Linked DNA regions of Homo sapiens: region 1 is linked to region 2. The links come from fine-mapping of genetic effects on gene expression. A gene starts in region 2. The other region holds a variant in brackets. All regions are shown on one strand. Distances are between the middles of the regions.

Region 1 (2,904 bases), 89 kb after region 2:
CTAAGGCAGGGAAAAATCATTGCTCAGTTGATCACGAGGATCTAAGAGCCAAAGCCAAGATTTAATGTAAAATGGGATCCTTCATCTCTGAAAAACCGAGCACCTTCTGGCTCGTATGTCCGTACGTGTTAGGTCCCGGACGCGGCAGATGTTTACAGAAATGGTGGCATCTTACTAAAGGTGAATGAAAATTACGGTGGGATGTTCCAAGTGAACACCACTGCACTTTAAGAAGTGCACCTAAAAACAAGGGCTCCTAATTAGCCTCATCAGGGATGCCAATTGATGTGAAGAAGCTTCTAAAATGATTTCAGTATTTTTACTCCCTCTTTTAAAAGTGTCTGCACAAAAGGCAAATGAGGCCTGGCAAGGTGGCCCATGCCTGTAATTCCAGCACTTTGAGAGGCCAAGGTGGGAAGATTGCTTAAGCCCTGGAGTTTGAGACCAGCCTGGGCGATACAGTGAGACACCCGCCCCCCACCCCCCGCTCCACAGCTCCCCACTATCTCTACGGAAAAAAAAAAATTAGCCAGGCACGGTAGCACTCACCTGTAGTCCCAGCTGCTTAGGAGGCTGAGGCGGGAGGCAGAGGCTGTGTCTGAGGCGTGTGAACCAGAGCGACTCCATCTTGAACAGGGGCTGGGTAAAATGAGACTGAGTCCTACTGGGCTGCATTCCCACATGGTCAGGCATTCTAAGTCACTGGATGAGACAGGAGGTCGGCACAAGATACAGGTCATAAAAACCTTGCTGATAAAACAGGTTGCAGTAAAGAAGCCGGCTAAAATGCACCAAAACCAAGATGGTGACGAGAGTGACCTCTGGTCGTCCTCACTGCTACACTCCCACCAGCACCATGACAGTTTACAGATGCCGTGGCAACGTCAGGAAGTTACCCTGTATGGCCTAAAAAGCAGGGGTGGGGGGCATGAGTAATCCACCCCTGGTTTAGCATCTCATCAAGAAATAACCAAAAAATGGGCAACCAGCAGCTCTCGGGGCTGCTCGGTCTATGGAGTAGCCATTCTTTATTCCTTTACTTTCTTAGTAAACTTGTTTTTGCTTTGCGCCGTGGACTCACCCTGAATTCTTTCTTGCACAGGATCCAAATCCAAGAACCCTCTCTTGGGGTCTGGATCAGGACCCCTCTCCTGTAACAATTGCAGTGAGCTATGATGGCACCACTGCACTCCAGCCTGGGTGACAGAGCAACACCCTGTCAAATAAGATAAAGACAAAATAAGATCATAAATATAAATTAATTAAGACAAAGAAAAAGCTTAAGTGACCAATTGATAAGAAAAAATGAATCTGCTGAGCTTTTGGCCTGGTTACTATCCCATACAGAAAGCTATCCTAGATGAAGTGTGTCTAAAAGGTCTCTCAGATCCAGCAGGCTTTACTTCAGATCCACCCACGCTGAGCCCAGGCCGAGGGAAGCCTTTCTTTGCCTTATTCCTTAATGGGTCCCACCCTGTACTCAGTAATTTCAGCTAAGAAGCAGTAGCCACATTAGAAGGACCACCTATCCACAGGTTGGTGTGAAAGTAATTGTGTGTTTTTTTTTTTTTTTTGAGATAGAGTCTCACTCTGTCGCCCAGGCTGGAGTGCAGTGGCGCGATCTCTGCTCACTGCAAGCTCCGCCTCCCGGGTTCAGACCATTCTCCTGCCTCAGCCTCCCGAGTAGCT[G/A]GGACTACAGGCGCCCGCCACCACGCCCGGCTAACTTTTTGTATTTTTAGTAGAGACGGGATCTCACCATGTTAGCCAGGATGGTCTCGATCTCCTGACCTCATGATCCACCCGCCTCGGCCTCCCAAAGTGCTGGGATTACAGGCGTGAGCCACCGCGCCCGGCCATAATTGTGGTTTTTGCAATTACTTTTCAACCAGCCTAATAACTAAAATGCACCTTTCTGACATTCAACGGCTACCTTGAAACCATTTTGTGAAAGAAATTTACATCTCCACAAGACATTTCCATTTGCAACGTCTGGGAGGGACATCCCTTTGTTTTAAATTTACGTAACAAGTCTTACCTTTGTTTAACGTGTTTTTCCTGGCCATGTTGTCTTCACTGGGCCTTGCTTTTTTCTTGGTTGAGCAAATGATGATGGTACAGTATTTAAGCTGAAAGTCTCAGCTTAAATAGCTTTTCATATATACATTTTCTGCCTTGTTTCACCTAAGAGTTATCTTTTTTGAAGGCAAATTGTTCCCTAGCTAACGATTGCTTAGGATGATAAAACAAGTAATTAGAAGATTGATAGTCTAAAGGGGGAAAAGAAAACTATTTGAAAGCTGGCAAATGAAAATTCTTTCTGAAATCTGTAAGATCTGTTTCTATCTGTGTCTGTTATGACTATATGTCTCTCTGTATGACATGTATCTGATAATATTTAGGAAAAAGCTGAAACCACCTTTGCATTGTCTCTTTGACTGAGACGGTGAGAGACATCTAACTTAATTGACTCCATCTTGCCTTTTTTTTTTTTTAGAGGTGGTGTTTTGCTCTTGTCGCCCAGGCTGGAGTGCAATGGCGTAAACTTGGCTCACCACAACCTCTGCCTCCTGGGTTCAAGCGATTCTCCTGCCTCAGCCTCCCAAGTAACTGGGATTACAGGCATCTGCCACAACGCCCGACTAATTTTGTATTTTTTTTAGTAGAGATGAGGTTTCACCATATTGGCCAGGCTGGTCTGGAACTCCTGACCTTGTGATCTGCTCACCTCGGCCTCCCAAAGTGATGGGGTTACAGGCGTAAGCCACCGTGCCTGGCCCTTCCATCTTGCTTCTAACCTCCTTGCTTATTCCTGTCCTTGCTTATTCCTGGGAGTAGGCTGAACTAACTTTGGGAGAAACTTAGTTTATAGTTTAAAACAAAGACGATAACAGCCTTTCCCAGTGG
Region 2 (2,904 bases):
AAGGTGCCAGGAAATCTGGGGAGGGAGGAACTTCCACCGTTCAGGGAGACCCTGAGGGTGCCCTGGCTTCTGGCCACGTCCCAGACCCTGTTAGGCACCGAGGTCTTCACACCCAGACCCTCCACCCACCCAAGTTTCTGCGGCACGTTTAGGTTGAGTGAAGACCAAGTCATCCAGTTAGAGAAGAGGACTTGAGGCGCGTGCTGCTGCTGTGGCCACGCTGGACCCTCGGTGCACGCATCTCCTGGCGAGTCCCCTGTGGCTCTGTGGGCCGTACACACCCGGGGCACGCGACCTCAGCTACCTTGTCACCGAGGACGTGCATCCACAGCTGTGCGTCTGTGCCTGGGAGCGGGGTCTCCACTTGGTGGGTCTCTGCATGCTGACCAGTTAACCCGCCTTTCCGGGCTGTGGAGGGCGTGGGTCCTGTCCGGCCCGGAGATGCTCCGCGGGGTGTGTGTGTGATCGTGGCCCTGTAGCGGGGTGGTGTTCCCTGGAGGGTGGACCCCTGAGCCTGGCTGTGTGTGGCTGTGTCTCAGCATGAATTCCGTGACCCAGGAGCACGTTTTCAGGCAGGGATTAGGGGCAGCTGGGTGTGGGAGGCAGGCACTTGGTATACCACCGAATGGAGACAGAAAATCCCAACTCTACGAAGGAAGTGAAGTCCCTTCAACAGGGACAAAGCGATGTTTTGGGTCTGACTACAATGCACCCTGGGAAGTCTCAAAGAAAACAGTCGGGGACTCAAGGAGGGCAGCCCCCTCTCCCCGACCCCGAGCTCCCAGGAAGATAAATGATTTCCTCCTCTCTAGAGATGGGGGTGGGATCTGAGCACTCAGAGCCAAGGGCGCAGTGGGTCCGGGCGGGGGCCCTCCTCGGCCCTCCCAACATGGGGGCCAGGAGGTCAGCCCCTCAACCTGGACCCCGGCTGGGTCTCAGGGAATGGTCTCCCCCAGTGGCCCAGCTTGCTTGTGTTTTCAGATGGGTGTGCACGGGTGTGTGTGTGTGTGTGTGTGTGTGTGTGTGTGTGTGTGATGCCTGACAAGCCCCAGAGAGCCAAAGACCTGAGTGGAGATCTTGTGACTTCTCAAAAGGGGGATTGGAAGGTTCGAGAAGGAGCTGTGGTCAGCCTTGCTCTCCCTTAAGGCTGTGGTAACCACACTAGGCATAGCATAGGCCTGCGCCCCGTCCCTCCTTCCCTCCTCCGCGCCTCTCCTTTCTCTTTCTCCCCCCTCTACCCCGCTCCCTGGCCTGCTCCTGGTGACACCGTTGGCCCCCTTCCAGGGCTGAGGGAAGCCAGCGGGGGCCCCTTCCTGGAAGCCCACCTGCAGGCCGGCTTGCTGGGAAGGGGCTGCTCTCGCAGAGGCTCCCGCCCGCCCTGCAGCCGTTTCCTGGAAGCAGTCGCTGTGGGTATTCTGTTCCTTGTCAGCACTGTGCTTGCAAAGAAAGCAGACACTGTGCTCCTTGTCCTTAGGGAGCCCCGCTCCATCACCCAACACCTGGCTGGACACAGGCGGGAGGCCGGGTCCGCGGGGAGCGGCGCGGGGCTGGGGCCGGACCAGTAAACACACACGGGCGCCAGGCACTGCAGGCTCCTCCTCCTCCTCCTGCCCAGCGCCTCTGCTCACAGGCACGTGCCAAGCCCCTAGGCCAGGAGGCCCAGCAGTGGGTGCAGAGCAAGCTCCTGGGAAGGGGGTGCAGGGCGGACCCCCGGGGAGAAGGGCTGGCAGGGCTGTGGGGGACGCTGACCGTGGGCCCCACGTTGCAGAAAACTGGCTGCCTGGCTGGAAGATGGGGGAGATGCCAAGCCTCTGAGGCAGCACGAGCAGGGTGCATGGAGGCCGGGGCGCGGGGAGGCTGCACTGCAGCATGCACCCCAAAGCCCAGAGGGAGTGGAGACCAGGCCCTGGAATCGAGAAGTAGAAAGGCGGCTTGGAGGCCTCGGAACCGGCTGACCTCCAACAGAGTGGGGCCGGCCCTGGAGGCAAAGAGGTGCCCGGGGTCCGGCCCTGCCTGGGGGAGCTATGTGTCATGGGCAGCCACAGGATATGTAGCCAGCTCTGAGCATATGGACCCAGGGCAGGGCTGCAAGGCAGGGCAGGGGAGACAGACGGGGGAGCAAGGAGCAGAGAGGGGGCCTCAGGCTCTCCCAGGAGGAACATTCTCCCGACAGGAGGAAGAGACGGCCCAGGGGTGACTGTGGGGAGCCATGGTGGCAGCTGGGGTCGTGGCAGATGGGAGAGAGGCTGGCGAGGTGAAGGTGCAGGGGTCAGGGCTCTGGGGCCCACATGCCTGTGGGAGCGGGCAGGCCCAGGGCTCTCCGCCACTCCCCACTCCCGCTTGGCTCATAGGCTGGGCCCAAGGGTGGGGTGGGATGAGCAGGAGATGGGGCCCAGGGGGCAAGCAGGGCCCCAAAGACATTTAGAAAAACCGGTTTATGCAGGCAGCATTCAGAGCAGGCGGCGTGCGTGGCGGGGGCCCTGGGAGCACAGAGAGGCACACGTAGGGCCCCCGAGGGTCTCCCCATTGGCCGGCAGTGACATCACCCCTGTGTCAACAGTGATGTCTGCAGCTCCGGCCAGCCAGGGTTTATGGAGCGAGACCCAGCCCGGCCTGGGCCCTCACTCCCCAGGCCCACACACTAGCCCACTGTTCAGGGTCCGGGGTGGCAGCATGGCCTGGGGGTCCTGGCACCGCTGCTCCTCTGCCCACCCTAACTTCCCGGCATGGCGGCTGCCCCCTCTGAGCGTCCCCAACCAGTAAGTGTGGGGCCAGCAGGCCTGCCGTCCTCCTCCTCTTCCCTCTAGAGAGAAACGTGGAGGTCCTGGGGCTGGGGGCGCTCATAGCCCTGTGACACAGGTGCATGGGGTCAGGGGTCCCAGAATGGCCCCTGGGAAGGACCTC

The links. PIP is the estimated chance that this variant, and not a neighbour inherited with it, causes the effect.
Region 1: its variant is fine-mapped to the expression of LINC01219 in prefrontal cortex (CommonMind, PIP 0.95).

What each region holds. Positions count from the first base shown.
Region 1 is chr11:1,900,902-1,903,805 of GRCh38, reverse strand. LINC01150 (long intergenic non-protein coding RNA 1150) reads right to left here. Exons shown (of 4, transcript NR_120534.1): 2 at 1,082-1,216; 3 at 550-702. It also overlaps a transcript of PRR33 not described here. Among named protein-coding and RNA genes, the nearest start is that of LINC01150, 5.6 kb to the right of the region's middle. The variant G/A (reference allele first, on the strand shown) is at 1,690.
Region 2 is chr11:1,989,681-1,992,584 of GRCh38, reverse strand. It overlaps LINC01219 (long intergenic non-protein coding RNA 1219), which reads right to left and starts at 1,489. Exons shown (of 3, transcript NR_126400.1): 1 at 1,326-1,489; 2 at 305-647. It overlaps MRPL23-AS1 (MRPL23 antisense RNA 1), which reads left to right and starts at 2,665. Exons shown (of 4, transcript NR_024471.1): 1 at 2,665-2,759. It also overlaps a transcript of MRPL23 not described here. RefSeq lists enhancers at 776-2,904, 776-2,904.